Homo sapiens: one gene and its partners. The protein of the gene in region 3 interacts with the protein of the main gene of each other region in a pairwise test. Each region holds a gene or a part of one and is shown on either strand. Other genes may lie near its edges.

What was found.
Region 1: the proteins of CHAF1B (region 3) and ZNF879 interact in a two-hybrid assay, tested with the Homo sapiens proteins (one large-scale study listed by BioGRID and IntAct).
Region 2: the proteins of CHAF1B (region 3) and CUX1 interact in a two-hybrid assay, tested with the Homo sapiens proteins (one large-scale study listed by BioGRID and IntAct).

What each region holds. Positions count from the first base shown.
Region 1 is NC_000005.10:179,026,770-179,030,418, reverse strand, and holds part of ZNF879 (zinc finger protein 879), read right to left. Parts: intron 2,947-3,649; coding exon 2,820-2,946; intron 2,388-2,819; coding exon 2,292-2,387; intron 1-2,291.
Region 2 is NC_000007.14:102,254,529-102,258,785, reverse strand, and holds the end of CUX1 (Homeobox protein cut-like 1), read right to left. Parts: 3' UTR 553-4,257; downstream 1-552. UniProt on the Homo sapiens protein: May be involved in intra-Golgi retrograde transport.
Region 3 is NC_000021.9:36,402,340-36,405,988, forward strand, and holds part of CHAF1B (chromatin assembly factor 1 subunit B), read left to right. Parts: intron 1-418; coding exon 419-512; intron 513-3,649. UniProt on the Homo sapiens protein: Acts as a component of the histone chaperone complex chromatin assembly factor 1 (CAF-1), which assembles histone octamers onto DNA during replication and repair.

The DNA of each region.
Region 1 (3,649 bases), on a different chromosome or scaffold from region 3:
ATTTACCCTCCTCCTTTTGTGGCAGTGATGCCTCATGTTATAACAAACATTCTTTTACAACATCTTTGTAACTCTGCACAGTTATCTGTGCAGAAATTATCTTAACATTTCTACACTTGGAATTGATTTTAATAAAACCAGACCATCCTCAGAAAGACTACCAGTTGCAGTCCCACTAACGATACTGCTTATCACTCACAGCAGTGGCAACACATTGGGTATCTATTTCTTAATCCTTGGTAATAAGGGAAAAATGGTAACTTGTGCTTCGTTGGAATTTCATTGATTTTAATTTAATGAAGTTGAATAGTGCTTCAAAAAATCCCTTGTGGATTTTTAATCCACATGCCTGGCCTTTTCAATCACAATACTCATGTCTTTGTACTGTGATGATTTACTCTTGGTACCTTTGCCTCTTTATATTATGGCTTTGTATTCCCATAACCATCTTAGCAATATTAGTAACAGAGAAAAACTGGTAACTAAAATTTCCAAAAGGAAGACTGTTTAATTGGCTTAACATACAATATAGTCCTCTCAATGAGGTAGGCCTCTATTCACTGAGGGCTGAATAACTGAATGACATTCACAATTAAAACAGGATCAAGAACAAACTGTATAATCAATCTTTCTGTATCTCTCTCTCACTGTGTCTGTCTCTCACACACAAACACATTTAAGCAAATATGCAGTTTGAATGGGTAATAAACAACAATAATTGATCATAGTTGGTAAAATTCCAGGTGACTTTTTTTTGCTCCTATTTTTACAACAGCATGTAGAATTTGTACAAATTTAAAATAATTAATTTTTAAAAATGCTTGTAAAACAACACTGACAATGTGATACCAATGATTTATTTGCCAACCAGAAAGCTCAGAGCGAAATTTGAAACTCATTTATAGCTACCATTCTGGTCCTTACTACAGATCTATTTATTTTCTAGATGTCTGATTGAATTTCTATTTTATTGTATCACTACTCTTGCAGTCAATTGCCTCACATTGTTGGTGGAATGTGGCAGAAACAAAAGATCCCTGAAATGAAAGGAAGGACTGAATCTTCAAAGCAAAGAGGCCAGTAAAGTGCCAAAGAACAAAGAAAAAAAAATACTCTTTCATATAACCTAATGAAAAGTCTGAATTCCAAAGATAAAGATGATGTCCTGTAAGATTCCAAAGAGAAGACAGAAAAGAAAAAACAAGTTACCTATACAGGAAATAGAATCTGACTAATGGGATTATTTGTCAGCAGCACTCCATGCCCAAAGACAGTGGAGCAGTTTGGACAATGCAGAGAGGAAAAAAAAAAAAAAAAACAGATGCCAGAATTCTAGATCCAAAACAACAAATCTCAGAGGAGAGAAAAAAACAACTGATTTTTGACACGTACAGATATTGCACACATGAACCTTTTTTGAAAACCGTTACCCAAGAAAATATTCTAGTCGAGCCAAAGGGAAAAATGTGAAGACAGAGTTCACGAATGGAAACGCAAAAGTGAACTGGCCCAGAAAGCCCACGCCCTGCCCAGGTGAGAAAAAAACACCAGACACGTGGTAAAGCTCAACAGAGGCCTCCTCTACTGCCAGAAGCATAGACAGAATTCACAGGAGAATGAATGCGGAAGCTGATAATGCAGTCATCCAAGGGCGTATAGGGAAAAAGTGACATGCCTTAGGAGCTGGGATCTGGGATGCATTATTTTCTAAATTTTCACAGAAAAGAGAAGAATAGCGTGATGAGTATCCGGAAGCCCACTCACATTCCGTAACTGTTACCGTTTGTCACACCTTCTTTCCCTCTTTCATGTATGTAAATACATACACATATATCTGCTTTTTTCCCCCTTTTGAACCATGTATAATTAAGTTGTACACCAAAGAAATCAAAGCAAAAGATGGTTCCAAGATGAAACTATGAGGAATGTATTGTAGTGATTAAAAAAAAACAATGTAATGTTCAAGCCACTAAGGAAAATAATTTAGGAAAAGAATCAATCCAGTAAAAGCAAGGATAAAGGAAGATAAAAGAATTATAAACCTTTACACATGATATACTGTATTACATATTCTGCAAATTACAAGATATCTGAAAACAGTGCAACCCATATTGGGAGAATTCAACCCTCCTCTGAACATGATGGATCAAGTAATCAAAAGAGAAAGGATCTACCTTCCCAGCATTTCCCCCTGGCCTGGCACATCAAGGAGACCCTTGAGCGCAGCCTCCTCGCTGTGCCCTGGCAGTGGGAAAATGTTATGCCCATCTCCCAATTACTCTGTCACTCACCGAGATGTGCGCCTTGGGGAACTCCACTCTCCACCATCCAGGGGTCTTCTCCTTGCTCTAACTGGGAGATGACCTTTGGCTTGGAAAAGAGAATCCCTGTTCATGAACAAGAAAGAAACGTGAGCGGCCATCGTAGCAGGCGGGTCCAGCCCCAGAGTGCCCAGGGCAGAGGGGCAGTACAGGGAAGGAGGAGGTTTGTTCTGAGAGGCTTCAAACTGGGCTCCTAGAGGACAACCAGGAGATGGTCCCAGGAAGAAAGTCAGGGCTCTGGTTGTGCACTCCTCTCAGCAGGAACACCCTGTGGGGCTCAGGGAACAGAGCTCAGTGGGCAGAAGACAGGAAAAGCAGAGAAAAGACCCCTTCATCAACTCTACTAAGCCAAGGTCTCTCCATACAACCAAGGGGAATGGCAATGGCCACTCTTGGAGCCCACCTGTGAGCCGACCTGGCCAAGCCCTCCAAATGTGCCCCCTGAGGGTGCTAAGGTGCTCTCCTGGCAGATTCTGCATCAGGAGGAAAGTTCCTTACCCAGTGAGACCAGGATGCTGTAGTTCTCCAGCATCACCTCCCGGTACAAGGCTCTCTGGGCAGAGTCCAGGTGCAACCACTCGTCCTGGCTGAAGAACACGGCCACATCCCTGAACGTCACGGACTCCTGGAATGGCAAACCCACTCCTGTTCATCCAGGACTGTCCCCACAACGAGAAGACTGAGAAGCAACCCTGTCACAACTTAGGGTTCTAAGTATTTCAAGTGTTTCTGGACAACTTTTCAGTTACCAAGCACACATTTATCATTTACCTATGGTGAGTGAAACACCGTCCCCTCAGGAAGCTTGAACACAGAGGCCAACCAAGAGAAGCACTTGAACCCATGAAACAAAATCAGAGCAAGAAAACACTGAACTTTAGATTTGGAAACGTCCGATCACCTAGACCAAACCCTCATCTTACAGGTCACACCTGACAGTCAGGTTTCGGAAGGAGGCACCAGCACATTCACTGAGGGAGATATAGGTGGAACACCACCAGGCTTGCTGGGAAAGGCGGTCACTGAGTCCTAGTTCTGCCTCAACTCGGGCCATCTCTATGAGTCCTGGGAAAGATGACACTGACATTCACAGTAGGGAAGGCTATGAGAATGTTCCAGGCATGGCTGTGTCAGGAGAGGTCCCAGGTGGTGGGCTACATAACCTTTCAAGCCAGAGGAGAAGGCTATGGTCAGTAGTCTCCCTCCCCACCCCAGAAGCTCCTGTTCTTCTATCTCTCTCCTCCTTCACTGGATGGCATGTTACTGCTCTGAACTAGGGCCATCTCCCCTTCTTGAGAGTCATCTTCTTGGCTGGGCACAGTGGCTTA
Region 2 (4,257 bases), on a different chromosome or scaffold from region 3:
AGGAGTCAGGGGCACAGTGAGACCCCCACACAGAAGGCTGAGGCCACGCCACTGACCAGCTGCAGGCCACACGGCAGAGGAGACTGGCCGTAGTCCTGGTCGCCCAAGTGCCATCGATTGGGGCTGCCACCACCAGCCCAGTGCCGCACCAGCACTGGCCACCATTCCTGGTTCCCCACAGCAAGCCTATATGACAGGAGATGGTGTCTCCATTTTACAGAAAAGGAAGCGGACGCCAGGGAGGGTAAGGGCTTGGTTCAAGGGTAGGCAAACAGTGCTGGTGACAACAGCAAGTAGGAACGCAGGCCCTGGCGAAGCCCTTCCTGTGAACCAGATGCAGATTGACAGAGCAGTGCCCGAGATCCCCATGTATCCTAGAACCACACGGTTTTCTGTGTGCCCGGAAGCCACACGCCCGAGGACCTGCGGACAGGTGCAAAGGGGACGACCTCGGGAACGGCGATTCTTGAGGTGCCCTTTGGACCTCGAATGACAGTGTTTGCTGCTCGTCCTCAGGCCAGAGCACTTTAAATAAAAACAACCCACACATTCTTGTGTTTGTATAAAAGATATTTACTTCAATTATCACACCTAGGGTGCTAGTGAATAATAATACATGGTGTGAGTCTCATACAGTGATATTGCTTCTCCGTATTATATAGGGACCGTTGTACAGTGCTGAGAACAAACATCGTATGGCTAACCAAAGACAGAGGGACAACACCAAGGGGCCGACGGGTGCCTCCCCCACCCCCACGCCAGCCAGGTCAACTTTGACTCTTAATGTAGAAAAACAAATAGCAAGAAATAAAATGTTACCAGAGAGATGTCACACAGCAACACACCAGAGGCATCTCAAAGCGATTTGTACAAAAAAAAAAAAAAAAGACGACTTTTTTTTTTTCCTTTTTTCTTTTTTGGTCAATTGGGTCTCTGTGAGGATTGGAGAAAAAAATCTGTGATTGTGAGGATGAACAAACAAGCTCTAGAAAGATCTAAGACTTGGTGCGTTACAGAAAATATAAAATACTGCTAAAATGTAAGACGTGACAAAACGCTAGAGTGGGGGTGGGGTGGGGGGAGCTGAGCTTATAGAGAGTTTTCCGGAAGATTCCGCCACCCTGTGAGTGCGTCTTGTGCTGTTAGTAGTCTGGACAGGAGCGTGGTGCTACCCGCTCTCAAGGCAAGCAGCAAAGAGTTATTGCACAAACGCAAAGAACTAGGTCTCTTATTCAATGCAAAGGGATGTGGGGAAAACCACCTTCTTTTTACCCCCACTTTTATTTTATAACAAGCTATTCTCCAATGTTTTAAGAATTTTGGGTGAATTCTCACATCTCCAGAATACACGGGATTTTTTTTTTCCAAGAGGTCTCAGATGGGGGTACGTGAGATGCCCGTTTTCTCAAGGGAAGAGGCAGAAGATGGTTTGAGAGAGAGAAATGCATAGACTAATTAGAGAAAAATGAAAAAAAAAAAGGCTTCTGGGGAGATGGGGACCATTGTTTCGGTGGAGGGTTTCTTTCAAAGAGAGAACAAAATCAGGGCCCCCGGCAATCTTGGAGAAGGGGAGGTGATGATATGGAAAGAGATGCTCTTCCCAGCCTACCTTGGGGTGAGCAGGGCCCTTGCCTTGGCCTGGGGTAAGTTTCCTTCTGCTGGGCCCATGGGATCAAGGCAGGGCGCCTCACCTTCACACCTGATTGGCAACAACTGGGTGTCCTGCTGGCTGAGCTTGGGGCCACAGCAAGCAATCTCCACACCCAACCTTCCTCCACGTTGAACCACCTATAGGGGAAAGGGGCCCTCTGCCTATGATCTCCTAGGTGAGCCCTCAAGCCACAGCCTGGTACTACAAAACACTGTTGCTTTGAAAGATGGTTTTGACCAACTTTGTACGCAAGAAAAACAACAACAAAAAACCAACCAAAACGTATCAACCCATGCGGGCCTTGCAAGAAATCACTCTCTCGCTTGGAGGTAAAGTCTTGGCCAGGCCACCGCGCCCTCTCTGACCACGGCTCGCCGAAACTTCATGAACCCAGAAGTCTTACCAGAGGCTCTAGGAGGCTTTGGGGAACTGAACTTGGCTTTGCTAAGATTCCTCTGAAGCTCCTCAAGCGAGCATTCTTCAACTCAGCAACTCCCTCACACGTTGGTAAATTTTTTTGTTCATAAACACTCTCATTTAAAAAGTTAGACACATAGAGACCACCAGTTTTTGAGTGGCTACTCTGGAGACAGGTGTTTGATTTTGCTGGGGAAACCCCCTCTGCCCCCCAGTCAATCCCCCAGACGCCTTGGTTCTCTGGGGGAGTAGGGGAGGAGAGGAAGGCAGAGGATAGTAACCACTAGAGTGACAGCAAAAAGCATTTATGACAACAAAACACAAAATAACAATACACTCCTGATAAGTACTTAAATGATTAACCTAATAATAAATAGAAGAGGATAGAAATAATTTTTTTTTTCTCAAGGAAACATCCTTTTATAATCACCCTCACGCACGCCGGCAGGTCAGTAGCAGTCAGTCCATTTCAACAAGACAAGATTAAGTGCTGGAAGGGATGGCTGTGGCCTCAGACACTGGGGAAGGGTCTCAGCTTCTGAATCACGGATACTCCCTATCCTGCCTCGTCAGGCCAGCGGCTCCGGCCAGAGCCCGCGGGCCCTGCACGCCCAGCACAGTGGTCACCAAGAGGCAGGCTGGGAGACTGGAGGGAGTCGGGGAGGCCTGTTTTCCCTTCGGTTCATGAACAAACGGAACTACAGTGAACAAACTCATTCATAACCTGAATCGTCCTGGTCTAAAGCTTACTTTGAGTTCATTTGGTGTGCAATACGTTATTTTTTTAAAATGAAGAAAAATGATTTCAATTGCACAGAGCTTTTACACATAGTCATCTATTTAAGTGCTTTCCGTTTAAAGCAAAGTACAAAAAAAATAATAAAATAATAAAAAAGAAGAAGGAAAAGGGGGGAAAAAAGAATTATAAAACAAAAGCAGCTCCGTGCCACTTCAATGTGTCTTGCTGAATGGTCTCTTGTTTCACCAGCAGAAGTCCCAATGCTTCCGTACACACTGTGCTTCTGATTAATTTCCATAGGGATGTAGCCGTGACATTGGGATATAAGGCACCTTTTCTTTCTGATTACAGAAAGCTTGATACATAGCATATAGCATATTTTGTGGTAGAAATTAAAGCGTAAACACTACAGAAATTACAGTAACGTAGACTAATGCTTTCTTAACATTATCGGGTAAACTAAAAGGATTCATGAAAAGCAACTCAAAGGCATCTTAAGAGTTTAAGAACGGGGGCATGGGGGAAGTGCACATTTATGCATAGCCAAATGTCTTTCTCTCGCCAGCCTTTTTTTTTTGTCTTTTTTTTTTTTTGGGATTTTTCGCCTACAATGCCCAACTTTTAAAGTTAGCATTTTGGAGGAGACTAGGCGCTTTGGAAATGTCTTGTTAAAGCTAAATGTCACTTCATCCAAAAATGAAAACTCGAGATGATGCCACGGATGGCATGGACACGGTTATCTTTGGAGGGAAGGTGGTGGTGGGAGAGGCCTGGGCAGGAGGAGGCAGTTTTTGGAAGTCGGGCAGACAGGCGGAAATTGCATTTCCTTCTATTCCCCTGACCAGGGTGGTGAGGAGCACAGGCCGCCGGGGCCTCTGGGATTGGGAAGACTGGGCTGGGGGGCCGGGAGTAGGGCTGGGGCTTGTTTTACGCTCTGCCCCCCACACCCCCTCCTCTTCCGTCCTGATTAAGCCCAAGGGTTGGTGGACTTAACTTTCAGCCCATCTCTAAGGGTTTCACAGACTGGATCTTTCTAAACTTTATTGGGTACCTGCTTCCCCTTTTCCCTGGTAGTTTTCATCTACAAAAAGTCAAAACCTGATCGAAATAGAAATAAGATCATCAAATTGGACCATTCTCTTAGCGTTCGAGTGTGCCGGCCAGACTGGCATTCAGTACACGCTGAGATCCAACCACATCACACTGGCCTCAGGTCACCACCTCGCCACTCAGGGCACAAGCCCTGCCCTTGTGGTCACAAAGGCTTCCCTAATGTCGTCGATGCCCAGGTGAAACCACAGAAGCACTGAGGGCTTTCTAAATGTGAGCTTTGGCTGGTCAATGCCCAAGCACAGGATGCTGTCCCCATCCTTAGGTTCTTACTTGCAAACTGTCTCCAGCAGGGGAACACTTTGGCCCCCACAGTGGACAGACCCACCTCCAACCACCA
Region 3 (3,649 bases):
ATGAATCCACACAGATAGAAAGCAGAGGTCTCCTGGTCATCTTCCCACTGTCTGCCAGTCTCAGGCCCCAGACATGCCACTATTGACCCTGTGGTTTGTGTTCTTAAGAGTTTTTAAAAATAATTTTAGAACCACATAAAACACACATATATACATATAGCTTTACCTAACAAAAATGTGTGGTCAGTTTTCATGAATGTTTACCCTTGCAGTGTTGTACAATTATTTGATTTGTAATGTGTTTCAGTTTCATTTATGATTATGTCAACAATAAATGACACTATGTAAAGAAAACCATAGGCACATATAGCAGTTGGGAAGCGTTTATTTGTGAGTGTAAAGATTTGGAAAAATGTTTAAGCTTTGTGTGTAGAAAACAAACAAAAAAAATAATAAAAATAAATTTTGTGTGCGACAGGCAAGAAGCTACCGGATGTTTCACGACGACAGCATGAAGTCTTTCTTCCGTAGACTGAGTTTCACTCCCGACGGATCTTTGCTTCTCACGCCAGGTGTGTTTCGTAGCTTTGGACTTAAAGGAATGATGGCCGAGTGGGGATGTCTGCTCCCGTTTTACGCTGCAGCTTATCAGCTCAGTGAATGCTGATTAGAGTGGGGGTCCCCGACTTACCTGCCCATTGGAACCTCCAGGAGAGCTTCAAAAAACACATTGGTGCCTATGTCCCATCCCTAGAGATTGTAGTGTATGTAATTGGTCTGGGTGGCCTGGCTTTTGGAATTTTAAGAAGATTTCCAAGTGATTGTAATGTGCAGAAAAGTTTGGGAGTAATGAGTTTAAAATGATAGGCATTTTCTCTTAGATAAATTTAACTTTTGGCTGGGCACAGTGGATCACACCTGTAATCCCAGCACTTTGGGAGGCTGAGGCGGGCGGATCACTTGAGGTCAAGAGTTCATGACCAGCCTGGCCAACATGGTGAAACACCCTCTCTATTAAAAATACAAAAATTAATGATGTGGTGGCGCATACCCTGTAATCCCAGCCACTTGGGAGACTGCGGCAGGAGAATCGCTTGAACCCAGGAGGCAGAGGGTGCAGTGAGCCGAGATCACACCACTGTACTCCAGCCTGGGCGACAGAGTGATATCTTATCTAAAAAAAAAAAAAAAAAAAAAAAAAGAAACTTTACTATTTAAACCCTTTCAATGAATGCTTTTTCATTCATTAACATGTGTATGGAAGCCATAGCGCTAAAGCCAAAGATAAAGCTCCTTTATTGTTTTTATTCTCCTCAATAAAGCGCATTTGTGACAGGATTAGACTCATGGACAAACTTGTGGAAGCAGCAGTGGTCAAAATCAAAAGGTCAGCCAAGTAGCAAGGACTAGATAGGTTTATTGTCCCTATGTCCCTAGGAAGGCAAGGGGCTCAGCCCAGCAAGATAAGGCTAGGCATTATTGTGGCCACAGTGTTCTCAGAGGAGAATGTCTGCTCATTGCCGTGGCTCCAGGACCATCCTGTGCATAGAGATGACAACATAGCCCAGGGTTGGGCCAAACGGGAGGGCACTGTCTTGGTTTGCCACTGAGTCCCATCCCAGCTGAGCCAGGGAGGGCCTGAGAAGGGCGTGAATCACACATGCAGCTGTGTGGGTGGGGCTTTAAAGAACACTGCGGAACATGTGCGAATGACACTTTGGCCCAAGAAGTCTCAGGACTAAGAATAAGTAGTTGTTTAGGTTATATTTACTAAAGTTAGTTATTAAAAGTTATTCACTAAACCCAGTAATAAATCCTTTTTTTTTTTTTTTTTTTTGAGACTGAGTTTTGCCCTGTTGCCCAGCTGGAGTGCAGTGGCACGATCTTGGCTCACCACTGCAGCCTCCGCCTCCCAGTTTCAAGCGATTCTCCTGCCTCAGCCTCCTGAGTAGCTGGGATTACAGGTGTGCGCCACCACTCCCAGCTAATTTTTGTATTTTTAGTAGAGACGGGGTTTCACCATGTTGGTCAGGCTGGTCTCAAACTCCTGACCTTGTGATCCGCCTGCCTTGGCCTCCGAAAGTGCTGGGATTACAGGCTTGAGCCACCACGCCCGGCCCTTTTTTTTTTTTTAAATTATTTATTTTATTTATTTATTAATTTATTTATTTTGAGATGGAGTTTCGCTCTTGTTACCCAGGCTGGAGTGCAATGGCACGATCTCGGCTCACAGCAACCTCCGCCTCCCGGGTTCAAGCCATTCTCCTGCCTCAGCCTCCGGAGTAGCTGGGATTACAGGCATGCGCCACCACGCCCAGCTAATTTTGTATTTTTAGTAGAGACGGGGTTTCTCCATGTTGGTCAGTCTGGTCTCGAACTCCGGACCTCAGGTGATCTGCCCACCTTGGCCTCCCAAAGTGCTGGGATTATAGGTGTGAGCCATTGCGCTGGCCTTTTTTTTTTTTTTTTTTTTTTTTTTTAAAAAGCAGAGTCTCGCTCTGTCACCCAGGCTGGAGTGCAGTGGCACCATCTTGGCTCACTGTAGCCTCCACCTCCTGGGTTCAAGCGATTCTCCTGCCTCAGCCTCCTGAGTAGCTGAGATTACAGGCGCCTGCCACCACAACCAGATAATTTTTGTATTTTTAGTAGAGATGGGGTTTCGCCATGTTGGCCAGGCTGGTCCCAAACTCCTGACCTCAGGTGATCTGCCCACCTTGGCCTCCCAAAGTGTTGGGATTACAGGTTACAGGTGTGAGCCACTGCGCCCAGCCCCAGTAGCAAATCCTTTACTATTTGGCCACTCTAAAAATATTTTCAATTAAAATCAAGTAGCAAATGGATGTCTGTTATCAACGTTATTGTTCTTTGTGGTGTTAGTAAGTGTGGGAAAAACAGGAAAATGAAATTACAAAGATTGGAAAAGAACAGATAAAAAACTGCAATAGGATTGTATTTCTAGAAAATCCAAGAGATTTTAAAAATAGTATTAGAATTTTTAAAATAATTTGATAAGATGGCTGGATATTATAAAATATATAAAAATTCCTATCTTTCGTCTATATTGGCAGTGAGTACTTAGAAATGGAAGGAGGAGAAATATTTCATTCAGAGTAGTGCAAAACCTGCAAAATACATAGAGTAAATTTATTTATTTATTTATTTTTTGAGACAGGGTCTCACTCTGTCACCCAGGCTGGAGTACAGTGGTGTGATCATGGCCCACTGCATCAGCCTTGATCTCCTGAGTTCAGGGAATCCTCCCACCTCAGCCTCCCTACTAGCTGGGACCACAGGCGTGTAGCACCATGCCTGGCTAATTTTCTTATTTTTTTGTAGAGACATGGTCTTGCTATGTTGCCCAGGCTGGTCTTAAACTCCTGGGCTCAAGCACCCCTTCCGCCTCGGCCTCCCAAAGAGCTGGGATTACAGGTGTGAGCCACCACACCCAGGCAGAAGTAAATTTAATGAGAAAGGGGCAGGACCTTTATGGAGAAGTCTAGAAGGTCTTACTGAAGGTTATAAAGCAAGTTCTGAACAAATGGAAAGATATGTCGTGTTCTAACAATTAACATACTAATTTCATTTCCAATTAGAATTGCATTAAAGTTTTTTTTTAATTGGATGAAATCTCAGCTTTGTTTAGTAGAATAAATGCTGAAGAATAGCCAAAGAAGTATTAAAAAAAAAACAGTGATACTTGGGAGGGCAT